Linked DNA regions of Homo sapiens. The protein of the gene in region 7 interacts with the protein of the main gene of each other region in a pairwise test. Each region holds a gene or a part of one and is shown on either strand. Other genes may lie near its edges. The genes, in order: AXIN2, DYNC1I1, BAAT, TLR2, ASL, PTPRJ and FBP1.

Region 1 (3,500 bases), on a different chromosome or scaffold from region 7:
AGGCTTGAGCAGCCAGGAAACTGATCACAGACTTTTAGAGCTTGAATAAAAGAAGAGAGGCCCCCTTTTGGAATGAGGGGCTGTTTTGGAAGAAGATTCTTGGCTGGAGGGAATTAAAGCCACATTTCCTTGAAGGTGCCTGTTAAGCCTTTCTGAGCCTCTACAGGCTGACATCTTCCTTTTCTGCTCTGGTTACAAGTTGCCTTTCCAGCAGTTTAGTCCTTCACCTGCCCTGGGTAATGGAGTGTGTGTGGTGGTGGTGGTGGGGGATGGGGGGCGGGGTATGAGGTGCTTATGAAATCATTTGTTCCTTTTGCCTTCAATATTGCAGTTATCTACTCCCCTCCCCATCCCTACCCCCATCCTGTTTTTTTTTTTTAACCTTATTATATGGAAGAAGAAAAAGAGGCATAAAAGCTCTACCACTGACTTTCATCTGGGAGAAGGAAGAGTGAAAGCTACCAGTGGAAATGTCAAGAGTCTTGGAGGGGGTGGACGGGGGACTCTTCTAGGACTCTTGAAGCCTTATGTCACTTGTGTCATGGTGGGGTCCATGGAGTGCTTGACTCCTGCCCCCAAGACTGTCAGGAACAGGGCTGAAGCAGAGTCATCCACTGTCTAAGTCCCTAGAAGAGAGATGGAGGATAGACATTGTCTTACAGCCCTAGGGCAGCAGAATTTGGTTAGACCAGCATGAGCCCAATCTGTGGGATACCGCCACCCCTACCATACAAGGTATCTTAGGTGAGAGATGGGGATATTCAGCATGGCTTGGGAACCACCTGGCGAGCCCCATAGCTAGTGAGTACTAGGTGGTTGGGGAGGACTTCCCAGAAAATTCCACAAATTTCCCCCTCATGCCTTATCAATGTCAGGTGACTGCGTGGGGCTTAGGAAATGGCATCTCCACATTAAGACCATCAGGAAGCTTGACTGCTGATTGGGGCTGGGAAGGGCATCTTATTGAAATGACCAAGTGTAGGTTGTTACAGATGCCTGTTCTGGAGTCCAGCAGTGGCTTGGGTATGAGTTGTCAATCTGCTACTGACTGTAACACTAGGTGAGCTATTGAGCATTTCTGGTCATCTGTAAAATGTGGCTCATTAAGGTTCTTATGAGAATGAAGTCTGATTATAGGTCCAATGTCTGACGTACAGTAGGGACTCGGTATCTATGAGCTGGCATTCTCAGGTTGGCATCAGTTGCCTTGGGTGCGATTTGGTTTCTGGTCAAGCCAGGCATGCTTATAAGTCCCGTTTTCAGCTACCCAAGGTGAAGACACAGAGTTTTGATAAATAATCTTTAGGTGGGCTTGGTCAGGTGCCGAGCCTCATGAGTAGGAGGCTGTTTCTCAGTCATGAGTAGAAGACGTGTTTCTCCAGCACTGGTCAGCCAGCTGCTGCGAATCCTTCCCACAGTGCTCTGTCTCTGCTCCATACTTACCTTTCTTTGGGGCAGTACTCACACTTGGGGGTAAGTTGTTGCTCTGGATACTGATCTCTCTTCTCTCCCTTCCCTACTCACCTCAGTGCAATTATCGTTTATGCACTCCTTAGCCAGGGTTTGGTTAACATACATTGGTTTGTTGATCTATTGGAATCTTCATTGTCCCTTGTGTTCCTGTTTTCTGACCTAGGTCAGTAGACTTCCTGAAAATGCAGCTATTTAGAATTCTAGGGCATTTCAGATAAGGAGCTAGAGGTTGACTAGTTACTCCTGGCTTGCCCCCTGGGTATTTTTAGACATTGCTAATTATCCTATTTTTCTTCCACCCTATGATGAACCAGACATTGGGGAAAGGGAAGTAGCCAAACACCCAATTTCAATATTTACAGCCTCCAAGTATGATTCATTATGAAAATGTTTGCACCCTGAGGCTTTTGTAAATAAGTGGCCTCCTGAAGGGACATCAATGGGAAAATAGTCACACCTTGACCATTCTGCTTTTAAGAAGGAAATTCTTTCTGGAAAAAATCATGGCAACTCTAGGTCATAGTTGTAGTGAACACTAGCTGGAGTGGCAGCTTTTTAAAAATTCTTCTACTTGTTAATGTTTTGTTTTTAAAAATATAATGGATAGGGGCCCATACTTCTTCAGGTCTTTGCCCAAAGGTCCCTTTCTCAATGAGGACTTGACACCCACATCCAATTTAAATTTGCAGCTTACCCACTCACCAGTGATTCTCCTTTTCCTGCTGTGTATTTATTCATAGTACATATCACTAACATACTATTTTTTATTTTGTTCATTGCCTGTGCCTCCCCATTAGAATGTAAACTTCAAGAGGGCAGTTGTTTGAATTATGTATCCACTTTGTCTACTGCTCTCTTGCCTAGTGCCTAGGAGAAGATCTGGCACATAGTAGGTGCTAATCTTTAAATGGATTGCACAGACCACCACATAGTAGGGGCTTTTCTCTTCATGCCCACATTGGTCATGTGTCTTTGAAAATTCATTGGTTGGGGGTGGTAGGGTTTGGAGCTGAGAGAAGGGGCCTAAATGTTATATATTCTTTTTATTAATCACGCTGTACTGGTTTATAAAAAGAAATACATTTGGAAATGACTAGGAGGTTGACTTGGAGAGTTATGCATGCTTCACTAATGCCTGATTTAGCCCTCTGTAGGTTTGGTTCTTATCCCTACAACTTTCTGCCCTGGCCCTATCCATAAGGCACTGGTTCCTGGTTTGAAGCAGTGGGAACAAGTGGGAGGACCAGTGGGGCCTGAGAATCTCCTACTTAGGGCACCTGTAAAATAGGGGAGCCTTTGCTCTGCCTGGGCTGGCTGGAGTGTAACCCAGTTCTAAGACAACAGTCCGAGAGATTAACTTTCCAGGCTCTTTCCAAGTTGATGCTTCTGCATCCAAGGAAGCCAAGTTTCCATAGATGATTGATGGGCAGGATTTAAATTTGACCTTGGGTGGGTCCTTCCCTGTGGGAGCACCGATGGTATCTGGAGACATGTGACACTCCTATGGAAGCATGTGGCCCTGTCGGCGGGATCTCAAGATGGCATATGACAGTAGCCCATGTGATGTGCTGAAAACATCCTCGTAAGCCTGTGGATTCTGTCTTTTCCTTTCCCTTAGAGATGGAATTCCTCCTTATCGTGTGGGCAGTAAGAAACAGCTCCAGAGAGAAATGCATCGCAGTGTGAAGGCCAATGGCCAAGTGTCTCTACCTCATTTCCCGGTGAGTACAGTCTGGAGTGAGGAGACAGCTGTTTTCTGCCATGTTGAGTCCTAAAGAAAAGAAATGGGTGGTGGAATGGGGAGAGGTATAGGGAAGGTAGAAAAGAGCAGTACCTAAGGTCCCCTAGGGCAAAGGGAGAGAAAAGAACTGGACAATAGGCATTACATGGTTTTTTGGGTTGTGATGGTGAGCACAGTGATGTGATTATGAGGTATCAGTCAGTTTTGCTATAAAGGAATACCTGAGGTTGAGTAATTTATAAAAAGAAGAGGTTTACGGCTGGGCACAGTGGCTCATGCCTGTAAT
Region 2 (3,500 bases), on a different chromosome or scaffold from region 7:
GAAGTGGCCCCTGGTGAGACTCCACTTGCTCTTAACAGCATCCTGAAAGGATTTATAGGGTGCAAAATGAGGACCTTGTTTAATTTATGGAAGTGGATTTGCACCTTCTCTATGTTAGGTGAAAAATAGCAATCCCCTGCTTCTCCCCCATAGACCTATATGACCCATTTAGAATGACTACAAAGCCAATGCCTGCTACGTTACAATGTTACTAAGGTCTGTATTTTATATTTCAGATGGATGGACCAATGTAAAGCAAAATTCAGCTTGTTGTAAAAAGATTTGTGGTGTGTGCCATAGGGACCCTTCTTTTGAACCAAAGTGCATATTCTGATAGTGCTTAGAAAGTACAGTAGCCACAGAACAAGAATGTTCATCATGTAAAATGTTATTCACTTTATAGCAATGAAAAAAATCTGGAAATTATCAATGAATGTATTCTATAGCCTTCGTAGATAATCAAGGACCTAGGTAAAACCATGGGTTAAGTTAACTGAACCTATGCCATGTTGATTCTAATACGCATATAGATAAAGCTGTGACTCCAGGTCTGGCCTACTATACTCTCTATGCCTCTCATGCCACTTAAGACATTCTACTCATGTTCCAGATATTTGTGTATTTATCTTTCTCACCGTCATCAGTTATTTTGAAGAGAGAAACCAGGTTTACATGACGTCTGCAGGCCTTGCAGAACCTAACAATGCACTTTGCTCAAAGTAGGCATACAACAAATATATTTATGAATGAATAACTTTATCAAATATTTTTATGCTTTGATAAAGCTTTAATGTGTGGTTTTAGCCAGGGTTTATGAAGGAGGATCATTGGGAATGGACTGTGAGGCATATCTTCCTAAGTCATCTTTGAATCATGTGAGGGGACAAATACTGCTTGTTTCTACGTGCAGAACAGCAGGAACATAACAGCTTGTATAGTTTGAATGGAAAAAGTCACATAGCTGAGCCATGGATGCTTGTCATTTCTACAAATCACAAAAACACAGGGATATGAACTTGGAACAATTTGTGGTTCTTCATTAAATCTTAATAGCCTCGGATGAGTGCAAGAGATGAAAAAAAATCAATGGAATAAGAACTACTAAAGTAAAAGACAAATTAAGCACCAGTGTGAACATAGTGACCCTTTCAAAAGACATGAGGCCACCTGTTAAGTTTTGCATGCAATTTTACAATCTAGTCCAAACTATTGGATTCCACTTTATACTGACAACTCTTTTCCAGGGGCATTGTGAATCTCTCAGTTAAGGTAGAGTTCTTATCACCTGGGAACTGCATGGTGGTTTGTGTGACTCACTCTGTTCTGACCCATCTGACTGGGAGGAAAGCTTTTAAGGCACTTCTTTAGATTGGATGGATTACATTATATATCATTTCTTTATCCCCAATATATATTTTTAGCTCCTCACTTACTATGTCCTAGGTACTGTGCAGGAAATCAAAGATGAAATGGAAATAATGTAGTAAGAGAAAAATGGCAGATGAATGAATAAACTAAAATACGATTAATGCTATTATAGAAGCATAAGGAAAATATATGAAATTGTCAACTTGACAGCCTATAGTCCTATCCCACTTATTCTACTTTAATTTTCTCCATTGCACTTACCATCCTAAACTATATATTTATTTGCTTATTAGTATTTTACCCTCAACTAGAATATGAACTCTAGGTCTGTCTTGTTCTTTAATGTATCCTTTTGATGATGCCTGGCACATGGTAGGTTCTTAGTAAATATTCCTTGGAAGAGTGAATGAATAAGAGAATTGAAAATTCTATGGGACTTAAAGGTGGGAGTGGTTTTCTTTGCCCAAGAGTCAGAAAATGTTTCACATGGAATGATCTCTGTGCTGGCTCTTGAATGATGAGGAGGAATTAACCAGGCCAAAAAGGGAGAAATGCTAGAACTGGTAAAAGAAGTTGAGTATGCAAACTCATTGAGGCATGGAGGGATAAGAAATATTTGGGGATTGTTATCTCTGATGGGCACATGGCTAGACCCTGAAGGTATGCGGAGATGCTGGGAAGGTGCAAGTGGTCTGTTATGATAGGCTCAGAAGCTCGAGCTTTTTTCCCTCAAGGCAGTGTGAACCACCACAGTCTTATGAACAGCTAATGACCAGAGCAGATGCAGCTCTTTAAGATAATGAAGAGTTGAAGTCGTGCTTTCCATTTTTCCAGAGATGCTTTCTCATAATGCAAGGTGGTTAAAATCCAGAATGTGATAACAGACTTTCGGAAATGAAGAACATGTCATCAGTAAAGAAACAGAAAAATCACCTTCCATGACGACAAGCCGTGTAGACTGTACCTTCCTCACTGCCAACCACGAAGTTATTGACGTCTCCCGTTGGGAAAGCCATTCCGGTAACAGCGACAGGCTTGGACTTATTGTACACCAGCTCCATGCTCTCCTACCAAAACACGGTGTGGTTACATTTCCATCTGTCAACTCCTTGCCATGCCAAAGATAGCACGGAAAAATCATTTGGCTAAATCATGTGTTTGCTTTTCACACAGCGTTACAAAAGACCCCGGCTGTGCCAGAAACCATGCTTTACTGCCCCTGACATTCATGCTTCTGTGGATCTCTGGTTTCAAGCCGGCTGGATTTCATCAGCATGTGCTGCTGCTTCTTAAGTCAGGCAAAGATGACAGGTGAGAATTTTGAAACTAATGGTGCAGAAACTAAAGATAATAATGGTTACACTTGTCAGCTCCAAGCTTTAATAAAACACACAATACCCTTGTATTTACAAACATTTTCAAAATCAATTGTTTGTGAGAATACACATGTATTAATATCAGATGTACTAAGCAAATTTGTCAAAGCAGGAGTATGTGTCCTCCATGGACTAAAACCAGAAAGTTGTCACTCAGGTCATAAAAACCAGATTTCAACAGGGACTAGATTTCATGCAGGGCAGCCATTGGGTGAATAGGCTATAAGCCTGAAAAGAACAATATTTAAATACGTCTTTAAAATAGCAAATGGGAGTCTTTATTTTATAATATGATTTTTTAAAATTGAGAATTAAAGATTCCTAATCTTAAAAGATATACTGCTGAGTTAAGTTTAATGACAGAAAAGAATAATCAATTATAACTAATATCCCTGAGTATTTCTGGCTATTTACATCAAATAGCCTATTTTGTGCATCTGAAATAATTTTTAAAAAATCATTCTGAGGTATCATATCATTATAGTTGCTTGAGAGTTTAGTCTTTCTTGTGCAAATAAACTATTTCAGCCAAGGAGTCCATTAAATTGAAAGTGCAAGCTAACAGTCTAAGCAACACAGACTGATTCTGATCCTGTGATGTGTTCAAAGTTTGTGATATCCACACATAGGGTGCACATCAGCAACTGGGATAAAGGAGAGGATGCTGTGACTATGTCATACAGATAACTGGATCATCCAATGATCTGCTTCATCACTAAAATTAGCAGCAAGGAAGGAAAAGTCCCTTTACCCATT
Region 3 (4,092 bases), 6.8 Mb from region 7:
GGCAGTTTCTCAACTGATAAAAACACCTGAAATTGATAATTGGCAGCTTTCAGGAACTGGGCGAATGAGCTCAAACATGCACATTAAGAGTCAAAATGGCAGAGTATGACCTTCCAGGGGCATTCCACCAGAATTTGAAAGAAAGCCTCAGATAAGCATGCATAAAACTCCAGTAAACACACTGTGCATGCCCACATCCCAAGCACAAGCAGGGCACCATGCATGTGGGTGGCTCCCCATAACCCTTAAGGGAAGGATGAAGGGAAAGGGGTGCAAGATGCCAGAAGTAGGCCAGCATATAAAATCCTAGGTTCAAGGATGAACGAGGCACTTGACCTCCAAGATGCCTGCTTGGGTCTCTCCCAAGTGTGTTTTCCTTTCTTTCCTGTTCTAAAGCTTTTTAATAAACTTCTGCTCCTGCTCTGAAACTTGCCTTGGTCTCTTTTACTGCCTTATGCCCCTCAGTTGAATTCTTTCTTTCGAGGAGGCAAGAAATGAGATTGCTGCAGACCCATACAGATTTGCCACCAGTAACTCAGATATTCACCACCCCTAACAATATTATCCATTCAATTTATTTCTATACAAATATCACATGCATCAACCAGCGTGCCCAAACAGAAATAAGTCAATTAGAAAGTCATTAACTTTAGCTCAAACTTATACTTGCTTTTTTTGGTATTTTTTAACATTACATTTCACTACCAGAAAGCATTCCTGAATTGCATAAATAGGTATAACATATATTCAAAGCTTCAAGAAATATTTTCACAGAATCTAATTCTAACATGGCATTAGTCTTACATTAAAAGAAAATTACCCTTCAAACAAAATATAAATAGGACCACAGTACAGTTTCCCAGAATAGGAGGGCTTATTCTATAAAATTCTAGGCAATAGTCTTTTAAAAGAGGGAGAAATATTGATGGGGATGGGGAAGACAGAATAAAGAAATTTTAACAAATGACTTCTGATAGCCTTTCATTTTCCTCAGAAATATAAATTTCAGCTCAATATCATCATAATAGCAAGTCCCTACTGACATCCTTTCTAAGCAAATCAAAATGAAAAGACACACTTATCTGAGCACTCTGGGCAACTCTACAGCTGAGATTATGAAATGAACAAAAAGACTATTTGTCCTCATGAACTGCTAAAATTCCAAACACTGAGGTAAATAAACTCTGATTTAATTCAAGAGCAGAGATTTTAACTTATTTCCAATCGGCCCAAATAAATAGTCCTGATTAAAATACAAAGTACCTGGATTCTTCCTCTTGAGCCTTCTTTTCCAGCAGTAGAGGGAAAATGACAGACACCCTACCAAAACTTGCCCAGAAGGCCAAAACCTCAAATATGCCTTTGGAAGTATAACAGAGCTAACTTAAGTGCTAGGTCACCACATACCTCTTGCTCTAGTTTCCTATTAATTTTTAACAGTTATTGAACCCAATAAATGTATCACTATTTTCCCTCTTCATTTTCTGTTCTCTCTAAATCCGTCCCTCTTAGGGATTGCCACTACATTTTACTCACATTATTTTAATAATTTTCTTTATAGAAGTTGTTTGACCCCTATTGGCACCATTAGGGCATATTTTTCTTCTGCAATAAAATACTCAAGGTAACTTCTGGAGGGCTCTGCATTTGCAAATGGTTTCTTTCCTGAGACAACAAAAGATGAAAACTACAAATGTGATCACAGTAATGAGTAATAAAATACTCAAGCCCCACTTTCAGAATTTGGGGAGGACCAAATCTCCTACTAATCCTCCTCAACTAATTCACATGGTTTCTTGAAATAGCTACAGAACGGAGTGTTAGTAGGATTTTACATGACAATAAAAGGACTATCTCCATAAAAGTACTGGATCTTTTTTGAGGTGATAGAGCATTTAAAAAGTGCAAACTTAAAGGAAACTTAAATTCAACTTAATTTTAAGGAAGTCTGATCAGCCAAATACTCCATAAAAAACTTGAAAACTATTAAGCTACTACCTTGCAAGACTTATGCTACAGATACAACTGATTAAGAATTATTAACTGGGATACATAAAATATTCCTAAAAAAGTAATGTCTAAAAATCTCAGGTGAATATGAGAAAAAGTCTTAAACAGGTACTTAACAGACAATAGGACACAATCATAAGCTTATGGGAAAAGGCTTAATCTCATTATCAAAGAAATGCAAATTAAAATCATGGTGTGTATTTCATACCTAAAAGGTTGGCAACAATTAAAAATTCCAAAAATAAGAGTTGGTTAGGAAGTGAATCACTCAGACTCAAGCCCTACTAAGGGAATATAAATTGGTACCACCACTTTGGAAAGCAATTGGACATTGTCTAATAAATGTGACAATATGAATAACTTTTGACCCAGCAATTCTTCTTCTAGAGAATAAAAATAAATGAATTACAACTACATGCAATAACCTGGATGAATCTTATAAACATAATGTCGTTAGAAACTAGTCATAAATACACATAAATAAATCTTTCAAATTTGTATTTGCTGAACTAAAACTATAGGCCACATTTTTGGAGTAAATCTTTAAACAAAAGCAAGGAAAGGATTACTGAGAGTCTGGATTGTGGTGAAAAATTACATTAAAAGAATGGAAGTAAGTAAATGAAAAAAATACATACCTAGCAAGAGAACCTGCCCCCAAAATTTCAGCGTAGGTTCTATTTTCCCTAAGTGTCGGCTGGTCTGAGAAATAAAGAGAAAGAGTACAAAGAGAGGAATTTACAGCTGGGCCTCCGGGGGTGATGTCACATATCAGCAGGACCGTGAGGCCCCGAGCCACAAAACCAGCAAGTTTTTATTAAGGATTTCAAAAGGGGAGGGGGTGTATGAACAGGGAGTAGGTCACAAAGATCACATGCTTCAAAGGGCAAAAGGGAGAACAAGATCACATGCTTCTGAGGCCAATAAAGATCACAAGGCAAAGGGCAATGCAAAGATCACAAGGCAAAGGGCAAACTTAGAATTACTGATGAGGGTCTATGTTCCACTGTGCATGTATTGTCTTGATAAACATCTTAAACAACAGAAAACAGGGTTCAAGAGCAGAAAACCGGTCTGACCTCAGATTTACCACAGCAGGATTTTTTCCCCATCCTAATAAGCCTGAGGGTACCGCAGGAGACCAGGGTGTATTTCAGTCCTTATCTCAACTGCGTAAGACAGACACTCCCAGAGTGGCCGTTTATAGACCTCCCCCTGGGAATGCAATTCTTTTCCTAGGGTCTTAATATTTAATATTCCTTGCTACAAGAAGAATTTAGCGATATCTCTCCTACTTACACGTCTGTTTATAAGCTCTCTGCAAGAAGAAAAATATGGCTCTATTCTGCCTGACCCCACAGGCAGTCAGACCTTGTGGTTGTCTTCCCTTGTTCCCTAAAATCACGGTTATTCTTTCTTTTTCAAAGTGCACTGATTTCATATTGTTCAAACACACGTTTTGCAATCAATTTGTACAGTCAGATACAATTACAGTGGTCCTGACGTGACGTACATCCTCAGCTTACCAAGATATGAGGATTAAGAGATTAAAATAAGACAGGCGTAAGAAATTATAAGAGTATTATTTGGGAAGTGATAAATGTCCATGAAATCTTCACAGTTTATGTTCAGAGACTGCAGTAAAGACAGGTGTAAGAAATTATAAAAGTATTAGTTTTGGGAACTGATACATGTCCATATTAAAATGAAATCTTCACAATTCATGTTCCTCTGCCGCGGCTCCAGCCAGTCCCTCCATTTGGGGTCCCTGACTTCCCGCAACACATACTATGCAACAATAAGCATAAGAAACCTAAAGTAGTAATGACTAAGATTATAAAATATATATATATCATATATCTATATGACAAGATCATAAAAACCATAAATCCGAATAATGGATTTCAAGATTTATGTGGCAAAAATTGACAGAATTAAAAGGAGAAATAGGAAAAATAACAATTCCATAACCATGAGTGAAGGTGTTTAAATCCCTTTTAACAATTGGTAGAAAACTTGAAAAAAATCAGTAAAGGCATAGATTTGAACACTATAATGACCTTACCCTAATCGCCTCAACAA
Region 4 (2,741 bases), on a different chromosome or scaffold from region 7:
TCTGACTCTAGTGCCCAATTAACCACATACACCCAGTTCTGGTTGAGAATTGAGCAGGGGTCAAAGGCTCACTTCCTTTCACATGGTTCCCAGCTTAAGAAAGTTACATAGAATCAGCAAATAGTGCTTACCAAAGAAAGTTGCATCAAAATTTAATGTGTGGTATTATTATACCTAGATTGCAAAATTAACATATGGTAGTAGTATCTACCTTTAAATTACTGTGTATCAAACTATTTTTGAGTCATTATGAGGAAACTCTAGGTATATATTTGCTTAAAAATCTATTTAGCTCACATGTACTTTTTAAAATATTCAGAAGGGGAAAAAGGGCAGGCTTTTTTAGAATTAAAAACAAGACTTTTCGAAGAAGGAAAAAGCAACAAGATGCAGGAGATATAGGCTAAAAAACAGGAACTGAGAGTCAGAGTGATTGGACAATAACTAGAACTCAAAAGGTAGTTAGAGGCTGAGGAAGACCAGAGTCCGGATGTGGGAAGTGTCTTTCAAATTCTCCTAAACTGAGTATTTATTTTGTTAAATTACAGAAATACATAATTTACTGTACCTTGCACTGTGTACTCACTCTCTCAAGTAACTATGGCTGGAGAAACCTATCTAATAGCCAGAAAGACAGATCCAGATCACATGAAAATACACCCTCTAGTATTTCTCATCCTGTAAAGTTTAATAGGAAATACACAGCACTTTTTTCTAGGAATAGCAACAAGTTTTGGGGAGTGCCCCAAATACTTTGCCTTGTTGCTCTTGAGATCAGCTGCACAGAGAAGTGACAGCTAGGTAGGACAGAGAATGCCTTTTGTGGCCACAGAGGAGTCTCTTAGCAGGAAGAAAGAATGACACAGTCATTGAGAATCTTAAGTTCATTTGTGCTGTTTCCTAATGAACTAAGCCAGTTGCTACAGATTACAGTTGGCCCTCTATATCCATGGGTTCTGCATCCATGAAGTCAACCAACTGTGGATCAAAAGTATGTTTTAAAAATTTTGAAAATAAAAAATAACAATAATAATATAAATAAAAAGACAGTACAACTATTTACATAGTATTTACATTGTATTGGGTATCATAAGTAATCTAGAGATGATTTAAAGTATACAGGAGAATGTACACAGGTTATATGCAAATACTATGCCACTCTTATAAGGGACTTGATCATCTATGAATTTTGATATCCACGAGGATCCTGCAACCAATTCCCTTGGATACCAAGGGACTATATTCAGATATCAGTAATAGACTTATGATCATGGTTATCTCATAGAAAAAAGAAAAACCAAAAACCAATTTTTAAATCTGGCATATGTTTATAAAACAGCACCCCAGACAAAATTTGAAGTTTTGTAGTTTTAGTAAGCAAGTCCTCAAATGACGGTACATCCACGTAGTTTTTATATAATTATGTCTGAATGAACTTAACTATAACTAGTGACATAAAGATCCCAACTAGACAAAGACTGGTCTTAAATATGGGAACCTAGGACTTTATCGCAGCTCTCAGATTTACCCAAAATCCTTCCCGCTGAGCCTCGTCCATGGGCCACTCCAGGTAGGTCTTGGTGTTCATTATCTTCCGCAGCTTGCAGAAGCGCTGGGGAATGGCTTTTTTCTCAATGGGCTCCAGAAGAATGAGAATGGCAGCATCATTGTTCTCATCAAAAAGACGGAAATGGGAGAAGTCCAGTTCATACTTGCACCACTCACTCTTCACAAAGTTTTCAGAAAGCACAAAGACAGTTTTGTGGCTCTTTTCAATGGAGTCAATGATATTGTCAATGATCCACTTGCCAGGAATGAAGTCCCGCTTATGAAGACACAACTTGAAGGGGGGATTGAAGTTCTCCAGCTCCTGGACCATAAGGTTCTCCACCCAGTAGGCATCCCGCTCACTGTAAGAAACAAATGCATCATAGCAGATGTTCCTGCTGGGAGCTTTCCTGGGCTTCCTTTTGGCCTGGAGCCAGGCCCACATCATTTTCATATACCACAGGCCATGGAAACGGTGGCACAGGACCCCCGTGAGCAGGATCAGCAGGAACAGAGCACAGCACATGCCAGACACCAGTGCTGTCCTGTGACATTCCGACACCGAGAGGCGGACATCCTGAACCTGCTGGCCACGCACATGGGATGGAGAGTCACACAGGTAATTTGCTGGCCAATCAATCAAGACTTTGGCCAGTGCTTGCTGCTCCTGAGTGAAGGAGAGGAATTCACAGGAGCAAATGAAGTTATTGCCACCAGCTTCCAAAGTCTTCAGTGTGTGAAATGAGTCAAGTTGCTCCTTAGAAAACGTAGTTATTGCATTCCTACTGATTTTCAATACTAGTAACATGGGTAAGAGGGAGGCATCTGGTAGAGTCATCAACTTATTTCTGGAAATATAAAGTTCTTTGAGTTGCGGCAAATTCAAAGAAAATAAATTGAGATTGTTGTTGCTAACATCTAAAATTTCCAGTGTCTTGGGAATGCAGCCTGTTACACTGTGTATTCGTGTGCTGGATAAGTTCAAATATTTCATCTTTTCTGGCCACTGACAAGTTTCAGGCATAGAATGAAAACTATTCTTACTGATATCAATGTTAGTCAAGTTTTTCAGAGTGAGCAAAGTCTCTCCGGTTTTTTCCAATGATGCCAAATGATTTTGCCTTAAAATTAAAGTTTGTAGAGAGGGCCAGGCATCCTCACAGGCTGAATTTTTCAAGTATTCTTCAACCATC
Region 5 (3,500 bases), on a different chromosome or scaffold from region 7:
AGGATGGTCTCGATCTCCTGACCTTGTGATCTGCCCGCCTCGGCCTCCCAAAGTGCTGGGATTACAGGCGTGAGTTACCGCGCCTGGCCACAAGACCCCATCTTTACAAAAAACTAAAAATTAGCTGGGCATGGTGGCATGTCCCTTTAGTCCCAGCTACTCAGGAGGCTGAGACAGGAGGATCGCTTGAGCCCAGGAGATCGAGGCAGCAGTGAGCTATGATCATGCCACTGCACTCCAGTCTGGGCAACAGAACGAGACCTTGTCTCTAAAAATAAAAACAAAACAAAACAACAAGAAAACAGGACCATCACTCACAGCACCTCTGCCTCTGCCCTGCCTACTTGAATGAGGTGCAGGGCATCTCACCTGCTCAGAGCAGCCCTTGAATGAGCCCCAGCTATTTCTAGGGTCCTCAAACGAAACCTCCCACGGCCAAGTCATACCCAACATGGGCCTCCTCCCCTATTCTGGCCCCTGCTCGGAGATGCTGAGTGACAGAGGCTGGACTTGGGGTGTTTCTGGCAAAGCCTCACTGCAGGAAGCCCCACAGCTCAGGCCCAGTCCTTGGTTCACACGGTCCCACTTCCAGCTTCTTTTGCCCTTAAGACTGATTTGTCCCTGGGAGATCACCAGATCCCTCATTCAGGTGGAGTGCTGCAGCGTGACACTTTTTCCAGGGGTGACCCAGGCCTGCAGGGTTCCAGTGTCACAGGCAGGCCTTGCATGAGCCTCCACCCGAGCTTCTGCTCCTCCTCTCCCACAGGGAACGTGATGTTCTCTTCCCGGGGTACACCCATTTGCAGAGGGCCCAGCCCATCCGCTGGAGCCACTGGATTCTGAGGTGAGCCAGGTGAGGTGCAGGGGCTGTGCTAGAGGGGAGGACCCCGGCTGCCCTGACCCTCCTGCCCCTGGCTTCCCACAGCCACGCCGTGGCACTGACCCGAGACTCTGAGCGGCTGCTGGAGGTGCGGAAGCGGATCAATGTCCTGCCCCTGGGGAGGTGGGTGAGGCTCCAGTGCCCCGAGGGCCTGGTGGGGGTGGCTGCTGCATAGCCTTAGGGATTGACAGAGCTGGGAAGTGCAGAGTGGGACAGAAAACCGCCTTATCTGCTCAGCGGGGGACTCTGCATGGAGCCCCAGCTCTCGCTAAGGTGACGACCAAGCCATTGAATGTGTCTGAGCAGGGCCAGAGCCCTCCAGCAAGGCTCCTGGCAAGCCCAGCCTGCTGCCCTCAGCCTGACATGTGGGAACATGTGTCAGGAGACAAGTGTCCTGCACCCAGGGTGACTTAGTGCTTGGGGACAAGTGTTTTGTGGACACTTGGGGACAAGTATTCTGTACCCAAGGAGACTGGGCCAGGGAAGAGGCTAAGCGCCAGGTGGTTGCCCTGGCAACCAGGACTTGGTTCTCTGTGTGTGCGTTCGTGTGTGTGTGTGTGTGTGTGTGTGTGTGTGTGTGTGTGTCAGGGCTGCCTGCCAGGAGCCCTGGTCACCATGAATCCCTGTCCCTGCAGTGGGGCCATTGCAGGCAATCCCCTGGGTGTGGACCGAGAGCTGCTCCGAGCAGGTGAGACGTCCTGCCCCTCCTCCCCAGGGAGAATCACCCTCAGCACCCGCCAAGACCTGCAGACACACCTGAAACCAGAGGGCAGGGGCCTGTGGCTCCTGGTGAAACCTTCATTCATTGCCTATGGGCACTGAGGTCATCAAGTTCAGGGGTCACTCATGGCAGGGATGCCTGGTACTGAGAGACTCAGGGCTCCTGCCTCCCTCCTGGGACTGTGCAAAAGATCCCTCCCCCCAGCTGTTGCCCCACCCTGATCAGGGGAGGGGGCTGGGCAACCTAGTTGGGGGAGAGGGGGCCACTCCCTGTCCTCCAGCTTAGCCCTGCTTCCTCCCACCCCCCCAGAACTCAACTTTGGGGCCATCACTCTCAACAGCATGGATGCCACTAGTGAGCGGGACTTTGTGGGTGAGTCCTGGGGAGCCAGTCCCCTGCCCTGTGCCTCACTTTAGTCCTTCAGCCCAGCTTCTCTCCAGTTTCCTCCCACACCTCCACGGACAGGCTGGTTGTGGTGATATTGTACACTGAAGTATAAACCTTAAATGGGTAAAGTGGGTGGGGCATGGTGGTTCACCATGCCCAGCACTGGCCAACATGGTGAAACCCCATCTCTACTAAGAATACAAAATTTAGCTGGGTGTGTGGTGGCAGGTGCCTGTAATCCCAGCTACTCAGGAGTTCTGAGGCCAGAGAATCACTTGAACCCAGGAGGCGGAGGCTGCAGTGAGCCAAGATCACGCCAGTGCACTCCAGCCTGGGCAACAAGAGCGAAACTCCATCTCAAAAAATAAAATAAAATAAAATAAAAATAAATAGGCCAGGCATGGTGGCTCACGCCCGTAATCCTAGCACTTTGGGAGTCCGAGGCAGGTGGATCACATGAGGTCAGGAGTTTAAGACCAGCCTGGCCAACATGGTGAAACCCCATCTCTACTAAAAGCACAAAAATTAGCTGGGCATGGTGGTGCATGCCTGTAATCCCAGCTACTCGGGAGGCTAAGGAAGGAGATTCGCTGGAACCTGGGAGGTAGAGGTTGCAGTGAGCCAAGATTGTGCCACTGTACTCCAGCCTGTGCATTGGGAGCGAGACTCCATCTCAATAAATAAATAAATAAATAAATGGATAAATTGTATGTGAGTGATAACTCAGTAAAGCTGGTTTATTTAAAACAACAACAATAACAAAAAACACGCTAGGTGCAATGGCTTACGTTTGTAATCCTAGCACTTTGGGAGGCCAAAGCAGAAGGATTGCTTGAGCCCACAAGTTTCAGAACAGCTTGGGCGACATAGCACGACCCCATCTTTGCGAAAAATGAAAATTTAGCCGGGTCCCCCCACCGCCTAACCTCCTCCTGCCCCCTGTATGGTCAGGCTGGGTGGGGATGGGAGAGGCCTGGTGACTGGGAACCTTTTCTCCCAGCCGAGTTCCTGTTCTGGGCTTCGCTGTGCATGACCCATCTCAGCAGGATGGCCGAGGACCTCATCCTCTACTGCACCAAGGAATTCAGCTTCGTGCAGCTCTCAGATGCCTACAGGTAAGCCCTGAACTGCCACCTCCATCTGCCGCTGCCGGCCTCTGTATCCCCCGCCGCCCGCGGACGTGGCTGCCTTCCTCCCCGTCCCACCCCTCCGCCAGACCTGGCCATTGCGGCGCTGGACCAGCCAAGGGTCCAGCCCCTTCAGCGCCAGCACCTCTGTCCCCAGCACGGGAAGCAGCCTGATGCCCCAGAAGAAAAACCCCGACAGTTTGGAGCTGATCCGGAGCAAGGCTGGGCGTGTGTTTGGGCGGGTGAGCAAGGCAGGGGGAGGGGCGGGGCCTCTGGGCTGATGGTGGGTGGCCAGGGGGGCAGGATCCCGGGTCCAGCCCCTGTGCCTCCCTCTTCCCGCAGTGTGCCGGGCTCCTGATGACCCTCAAGGGACTTCCCAGCACCT
Region 6 (3,500 bases), on a different chromosome or scaffold from region 7:
TCAATATTCACAATGTTGTGTAACTATCACCACTACCTGTACCCAAAACACTGTCATTATCCCCAGCATAAACTGTAGCCATTAAACAATAATGCCCACTCCCTCCTCTGAACAGCCCCTGGTAACCTCTATTCTAATTTCTGTAGAATATTAAGTTGCCTAATCTAGGTACTCATGTAAGTGGAATCATCCAGTATTTGTCCTTCTGTGTCTGGCTTCACTTAGCATAATGTCCTCAAGATCCATCCATGTTGTACCATAAATCAGAATTTCTTTCTTTCTTATGGCTGAATAGTATTTTGTTGTATGGATGAACCACATTTTATCTATCCATTCATTTGTTGATGGGATCTTGGGTCCACCTTTGGCTACTGTGAACAATGCTACTACTATGAACACTGATGTACAAATAACTGTCCAGGGGCCTGTTTTCAATTCTTTTGGAGATATACATAGGACTGGAATTACTGGATCATATGGTATTCGTTTCCTTTTTTTGAAATTGCTTTTAATGCTGTTAAGCTGACTTTTTCCAATAACAATAAAGGTTATTTGATAATAGAAAGGTAACCCCCCTAAGAGTTTAGATCTTATAGCAAGCCTTCTTGACTTTCATTCAATGGGACCATTGAATGAAACGGGTCCTTTGAGACAATGCAATTCCAGGCAGGTGTTAAAATTACCCTGTAGAAATACTGATATTAAGAGGAAAGAATATTCACAATAAACTATAGTAAAAGAGATGCCCTCTCCTCACTAATACTAAACTTTACTGCTGTACCACATCAAAGTGTCAATCTACATGGTGGTTAAGCACTTGGTCTTAGACAGCAGACACAGGTCAGTTTGCCACCTTGTCACTCTGGGCCAGTTACTTAAGTTTGCAGAGCCCCCATTTCTTACTCTGTAAGACAGAAATGATAATAATACCTGCTCCATGAAGTTGTGTTAAAAATGTAAAATGCAGTATGAGAGCACTCAGCACTTCGCAGACCCCCAGCATATTATATTATTGTTACAGTAAGTTCTGGGCAATAGCAAGTAGCACAACATCATGCATCTCCCTCAGTGGTGATCCTCTTACCATTATCCACATCCTTAAAAGACAGAAGAAACATGTTGACGTTAAGACGTCATGTCAACAGTCTGAAATGCAGATTTGCAAAGGGAATACTGCATTTCATCTGAGGGATGCATTTTAGTAGATCCCTTATTTCAGAAGCAGATCCTCTGAGTGACTATCGGTGCTTAACCCAACCAGCACAGTTGAAGAAGCTTCTTCAAGGAGAATCTCAAAAGCGTAACTCATTTCATGTGTGTTTCAAGGAATCTGTCCCATTTCTTTTATATATATATATATGTTTTTATTATACTTTAAGTTCTAGGGTACATGTGCACAACGTGCAGGTTTGTTACATATGTATACATGTGCCATGTTGGTGTGCTGCACCCATTAACTCATCATTTACATTAGGTATATCTTTATTCTACCCTCTGTATAAAAGATTTCAACTATCTTGAATCTTAGATCAAGGAAGACTGTATGTTTTTCAACCTTTCCAAAAAACAATTATTTCAAAATTTTAAAACAACAATAATGAACATTACTCTCTAGGATTTCCCAGAAGTTTCTCCTGTAGGCCTAGAAATAATTTAATAATTTAAACTGTTTCTATAAAAAAAAATTTTTTTTTGAGACAGGGTCTCCCAGGCTGGTGCTAGTCTGCAACTGTTGGGCCAAGCAATCCTCCTGCCGCAGCCTCTCAAGTAGCTGGGACGATGGGTGCAGGCCACCGTAGCTGACTATAAAATGATTTTATCAATTTCAATTAGCCTTCTAGAACTAACAAAGTATCTCATCACAGTGTTGTTTAGGAAAGACTGTGAACAGTCCACCTGCCCAACACAGCACAGTAGTTAATTTCTAACACATCTTGACCAGAGGTTCTTAAACTTTTTGCTCTCAGGACTTCTTTACCATCTTAAAAGTTATTAAGGCTCTCAGAGAATTTGTATTTACATAGGTTATATTTATTAATATTTACTATATCAGGGATTTAAAATGAAGAAATTTTTAAAATGTAAGAATCCACAGCATATATTCCATTAGACCTGAGAGACAATGTCATCCCATATCGGATCAAAGTTGGAAAACTCCAAAAGAGAATGAGAATGAAAAAGCCAAATAACATTTTAGTATTGTTATGATAATACTACCTTGGAGACCCCTTGAAAGAACCTAGGGATCCCTAGAGAGCCCTGGACCACAATTTGAAAACCACTGATCTAGCCCAGAGGTCAGCAAACATTCTCTGTAATGGCCAGAAAATAAATATCTCAGGCTTCACAAGCCACACGTTCTCTGCTGCCACTACTCAATTCTAGCACCAAAGTAGCCATAGACAGTACATAAGCAAATGAACATGGCTGTGATCCAATAAAACTTTATTTACAAAAACAGACAATGAGCCAAATTTGGCATAGGGGCCATTCTTATCTGCCAACTCTGTTTCAGATGATGGAATTCCAGGCAGGTGTTCAAATCATCCTGTAGAAATATTTTATTAAGAGGAAAGAATATTCATAATTAATTGGCAAGTTGGGGAAAAGGCAGATTACAAAACCACATGTACAGATGGCCTCAATGTTTGTGAAAGAAATAAATATATATTTGTGGGCTGGGTGCAGTGGCGCACACCTGTAATCCAAGCACTTTGGGAGGCTGAGGTGGGCAGATCATTTGAGATCAGGAGATCAAGACCAGCCTGGCCAATATGGCGAAACCCTGTCTCTACTAAAACTATAAAAATTAGCCAGGCATGGTGGTGCACACCTGTAATTCCAATTACTCAGGAGGCTGAGGCACAAGAATCGCTTCACTTGAACCCAGGAGATGGAGGTTGCAGTGAGCCAAGATCATGCCACTGCACTCCAGCCTGGGTGACAGGGTAAGACTGTCTCAAAAAAAAAAAAAAAAAAAAAAAAAAATATATATATATATATATATGTGTGTGTGTGTGTGTGTGTATTAAATATTAAATATATATGTATTAAATATATGTATACTCACACATATATTTGTGTATCTATATGTATATGTTTAAAAATTGTAAAATGTCATACATCAAAAGTGATTATCTCTGCTTGATGGTTTCCATGTAAGTTTTTTCTACTTACTTGTCTGTATTTCATATAATAAATAAGCATTAGTGTTATGAAAATTTTTAAAGTTTTTTCTTAGATAATTAAAAGAAAAACAATATTTGGAAACATTATGTTTATTAATTATACTGATTTCCTTTAAGAAACATGATGGTTTAACAGAAAAGCCTATTTGCTTACCAGTTCTATTGCAAACTGTCCGAGATGCCCCTTCAGTCCCATTTGGTCCTTTTGGAACTATTTCAAAGCAATACTTGGTTCCAGGGAACAAGCCACCAATGATAATACTTTGGTTGGTGGTTATTTCTACCCGAGAATTGCCAGCTCCCTCCTGTGTG
Region 7 (3,500 bases):
CAACCAGCTAACTAACCACCTCCCCAGGTGAAAACTAGGAGGGGCAGGGAAGCGGTGGAAAGAAATGGGTTTGTGGTTTTCTGGTTTGTGGTTTTCTCATTTATATGAGTAGTTGTTATGCTTGAATGTGAAGTTCTTACACTTGAGTGTGAAGGTCACCCCTTCACATTGCATAGTGCAATGCAGATTCTCAGGCCCCGCCATGGAAAGTCTGACAGTGTGTCTAGGCTGTAGCCCCAGAATATGCATTTCTTTTCTTTTTCTTAAAGAGGCAGGTTCTCATTCTGTCACCCAGGCATGTGCAGTGGAATGATAATGGCTCACTGCAGCCTCGACCTCCCAGGTTCAAGTGATCCTCCAGCCTCAGCCTCCTTAGTAGCCACAGGCACATGCCACCATGCCTGGCTAATTAAAAAAAAATTTTTTTTCGTAGAGATGGGGTCTCCCAGTGTTGCACAAACTGGTCTCAAACTCCTTGCCTCAAATGATCCTCCTACCTTAGCCTCCCAAAGTGCTGGGATTATAGGGATGAGTCATGACCCCGGCTGTGAATGTGCATTTTTAATAAATATCCCAGGTGATTCTAATGCAGGTGCTCTGTGGGCCACCCTTTTGAAAGTTATGGGAAGAAATTACCTGGAATGTTTTGCTGGGATGACTTCCTTCTCCAGCTGCGTGATACAGATGCCCCTGCTTACGCTCAGCTGCAGGAATCTAGGAAAAGAATAAGTGAAGTTCGAGAAATTGCATATTTTTATTTCTGCTTAATTCAAGCAGAGAGTAGTTAAGCTGAAAGATTTGTTTGGGGCTGTCTTGATGACCAAAGAGGTCAATCCAGTGTTAATAAAGAAGATCAGGCTGGGCGCAGTGGCTCACGCCTGTAATCCCAGCACTTTGGGAGGCCGAGGCAGGTGGATCACGAGGTCAGGAAATAGAGACCATCCTGGCTAACACGGTGAAACCCCCTCTCTACTAAAAATACAAAAAATTAACTGGGTGTGGTGGCAGGCGCCTGTACTCCCAGCTACTTGGGAGGCTGAGGCAGGAGAATGGTGTGAACCCGCGAGGCGGAGCTTGCAGTGAGCCGAGATAGCACCACTGCACTCCAGCCTGGGCGACAGAGCGAGACTCCGTGTCAAAAAAAAAAAAAAAGAAGAAAATCATTAATAGTAAGAAATCAGTGGTTAGGAGCTGTCTCCTTAAGGGGCTCCCTTCCCTAGTGTTAGAAAAACTCTGGACCACATGACCCAGTGGGCTGTGTTTTTAATGAAAAAATGGATTACGGCACATGCCACGTTCTAAGTGTAGGTATTATTTTGGTAACTTTTTGGTGTGTGTGTGGGGGCACTGGTTTGTGATGTAAAATGTGCTTCTTCCCATGCATCACGGTTAAAACACTGGACAGCATCTGCTCTACCCCATAATGACTCTGGGGAGATATTCTGAGTTCCTACGTTTCTGAGAATTTCCCTGACGTGTGAGTGATATAGACCACATGCTCAGCAGAGTATGGGCTGCAGCGGCAAGAGCTCACAAAACTGATTTCCTCCGCAGACTGGCTGCCCTGCAGCCCAGTGTTAATTTATTTAAATAAAGATGGAGTAGGCAGGTGACAGAGATGGATGCCCGTAATAAGATTAAATTAGTGGGAACTGGCAAGAAGGCATGCTCTTTTTTGGAACTGATAGTGGAGAGATGAGGGAATATCACATTAGAAAAATTGGAGGAGGGCCCTAATTGGAAAGAGGAATCCAGATGCAGGAAATCTGGGTTCTGGTGGGAAGGCTGCCGTGATAATCTAATCAGGATATTGCTGATGTGTAGGGGAAGGCCCCTCTGGGAAGATGCCCTATTTCATTAGAAGAGCACCTTGAGAATGCCTCCTGTTAATGGTTGAACTGTAAAAAAGAATCACAAAACAAAACAAAAACATTCTTTGATTTCTTTCTTGCTCTAGAAATCAACTGATGAGCCTTCTGAGAAGGATGCTCTGCAACCAGGCCGGAACCTGGTGGCAGCCGGCTACGCACTGTATGGCAGTGCCACCATGCTGGTCCTTGCCATGGACTGTGGGGTCAACTGCTTCATGCTGGACCCGGTGAGAGACCTCACAGGAGGCTGGGGGCTTGGCTGGTGTCTGTGAGCAAATGAATGATATGTGTGGGGGATTGGCAGGGGTATGTGGAGGTGGGAGGTGATGCCCATGGAGGGACAGAGATGATGATGTGTGGTGGAAAGGGGGCAGGAGACCAAGAGAGAGTGTATGCCTCCCGAGCAGACTATGGAGGTGAGAAATGCCATCTCAGACTGGCACAAGAGGGGGTCTTTGTTCCAATGTGAATTCCTCAGAGCAGCTGTTACTCAAATGACCCAAATGCCAGGTCCAGGCAGGCCATAGGGATGATGAAGTGTGCTGGGGAAGGAAGGCCGGGGGGCAAGGGTGGAACTGGGGTGAACTGAAGAGTTCCAGCAATTACAATTGGGAGGAGGGGGCCCGCCTTGCCAAGGCTTCTATTAATGGTTCAAGAAACACTGGATTGTAAAAAACATAATGTTTCTGCATGTGTGCAACACTATGTTGGCCAACTAAAATGCATTTATGGACCTGATGGGGCTGTAGATATTCTGTTTGCCATAAACTGTATCCATCCATTTCTAGCTTTTCTACTTTAGTCACCAAAAGGCTGTTTTCCTGAGACGAATGGGTGTGCCAACTGAAGCAGTGGACGACATTGCTTCTTCAAAAATAGCTCCCACATTTATTCGTGTACATTTACACAAACCTTCAGTTAACTGGTGCAGTCTTTCTTTCTTTTTTTTTTTTTTTTCTGAGATGTAGTCTTGCCCTGTCTCCCAGGCTGGAGTGCAGTGGCGTGATCTCGGCTCACTGCAAGTTCTGCCTCCTGGGTTCGAGCGATTCTCCTGCCTCAGCTCCTGAGTAGCTGGGACTACAGGCGCCTGCCACCACACTTGTATTTTTAGTAGAGACGGGGTTTCGCCATGTTGGTCAGGCTGGTCGCGAACTCCTAACCTCAGGTGATCTGCCCGCCTCAGCCTCCCAAAGTGCTGGGATTACAGGCATGAGCCACCATGCCTGGCCAACTTTTTTAACTTTTAGAGATGTCCTCCTATGACATTAGTGAACTATGTGTAAAGTGCTTTTTGCTGGCAAACTGAACCCCAGGAACAGACAAGGAACAGGAACCTTCTGTGCGAGATAGGCTGCTGGAGGTGAGGCCGGGTCTGTGTGTGGCAGGAAGGCTAACTCAACACAGGCTGCCTTTGTCCCAGGCTGTCAGGGAAGTGGACTTTCACCTCCTTGGAAGCATGGGCACTTAACAAATAAACAAGGGTAGGGTAATAGCACTAGTTAAAGTCGCCAAATGTGGTGACCTGGGTAGGGGTGGGGTGGGGGAGTTAGTGGCAGAACCAGAGCAAAGTTCCACCTGAGCCCAGGATGGAATTTCGGGCACCACTGATGTTTGCTGACTGTGATTTGC

Evidence for each region.
Region 1: the proteins of FBP1 (region 7) and AXIN2 interact in a two-hybrid assay, tested with the Homo sapiens proteins (one large-scale study listed by BioGRID and IntAct).
Region 2: the proteins of FBP1 (region 7) and DYNC1I1 interact in a two-hybrid assay, tested with the Homo sapiens proteins (one large-scale study listed by BioGRID and IntAct).
Region 3: the proteins of FBP1 (region 7) and BAAT interact in a two-hybrid assay, tested with the Homo sapiens proteins (one large-scale study listed by IntAct).
Region 4: the proteins of FBP1 (region 7) and TLR2 interact in a two-hybrid assay, tested with the Homo sapiens proteins (one large-scale study listed by BioGRID and IntAct).
Region 5: the proteins of FBP1 (region 7) and ASL interact in a two-hybrid assay, tested with the Homo sapiens proteins (one large-scale study listed by BioGRID and IntAct).
Region 6: the proteins of FBP1 (region 7) and PTPRJ interact in a two-hybrid assay, tested with the Homo sapiens proteins (one large-scale study listed by BioGRID and IntAct).

Annotation. Positions count from the first base shown.
Region 1 is NC_000017.11:65,541,149-65,544,648, reverse strand, and holds part of AXIN2 (axin-2), read left to right. Parts: intron 1-3,091; coding exon 3,092-3,194; intron 3,195-3,500. UniProt on the Homo sapiens protein: Inhibitor of the Wnt signaling pathway. Down-regulates beta-catenin. Probably facilitate the phosphorylation of beta-catenin and APC by GSK3B.
Region 2 is NC_000007.14:96,034,554-96,038,053, reverse strand, and holds part of DYNC1I1 (cytoplasmic dynein 1 intermediate chain 1), read right to left. Parts: intron 2,436-3,500; coding exon 2,302-2,435; intron 1-2,301. UniProt on the Homo sapiens protein: Acts as one of several non-catalytic accessory components of the cytoplasmic dynein 1 complex that are thought to be involved in linking dynein to cargos and to adapter proteins that regulate dynein function.
Region 3 is NC_000009.12:101,382,207-101,386,298, forward strand, and holds the start of BAAT (bile acid-CoA:amino acid N-acyltransferase), read right to left. Parts: upstream 2,801-4,092; 5' UTR 2,649-2,800; intron 1,668-2,648; exon of another isoform or gene 1,537-1,667; intron 1,359-1,536; exon of another isoform or gene 1,264-1,358; intron 1-1,263. UniProt on the Homo sapiens protein: Catalyzes the amidation of bile acids (BAs) with the amino acids taurine and glycine. More than 95% of the BAs are N-acyl amidates with glycine and taurine.
Region 4 is NC_000004.12:153,704,020-153,706,760, reverse strand, and holds the end of TLR2 (toll-like receptor 2 precursor), read right to left. Parts: coding exon 1,499-2,741; 3' UTR 501-1,498; downstream 1-500. UniProt on the Homo sapiens protein: Cooperates with LY96 to mediate the innate immune response to bacterial lipoproteins and other microbial cell wall components. Cooperates with TLR1 or TLR6 to mediate the innate immune response to bacterial lipoproteins or lipopeptides.
Region 5 is NC_000007.14:66,085,819-66,089,318, forward strand, and holds part of ASL (argininosuccinate lyase), read left to right. Parts: intron 1-766; coding exon 767-844; intron 845-925; coding exon 926-1,003; intron 1,004-1,515; coding exon 1,516-1,568; intron 1,569-1,910; coding exon 1,911-1,973; intron 1,974-2,988; coding exon 2,989-3,103; intron 3,104-3,272; coding exon 3,273-3,357; intron 3,358-3,457; coding exon 3,458-3,500.
Region 6 is NC_000011.10:48,130,559-48,134,058, reverse strand, and holds part of PTPRJ (receptor-type tyrosine-protein phosphatase eta isoform 1 precursor), read right to left. Parts: coding exon 3,343-3,500; intron 2,549-3,342; coding exon of another isoform or gene 2,544-2,548; exon of another isoform or gene 1,339-2,543; intron 1-1,338. UniProt on the Homo sapiens protein: Tyrosine phosphatase which dephosphorylates or contributes to the dephosphorylation of CTNND1, FLT3, PDGFRB, MET, KDR, LYN, SRC, MAPK1, MAPK3, EGFR, TJP1, OCLN, PIK3R1 and PIK3R2. Plays a role in cell adhesion, migration, proliferation and differentiation.
Region 7 is NC_000009.12:94,608,519-94,612,018, reverse strand, and holds part of FBP1 (fructose-1,6-bisphosphatase 1), read left to right. Parts: intron 1-1,957; coding exon 1,958-2,098; intron 2,099-3,500. UniProt on the Homo sapiens protein: Catalyzes the hydrolysis of fructose 1,6-bisphosphate to fructose 6-phosphate in the presence of divalent cations, acting as a rate-limiting enzyme in gluconeogenesis. Plays a role in regulating glucose sensing and insulin secretion of pancreatic beta-cells.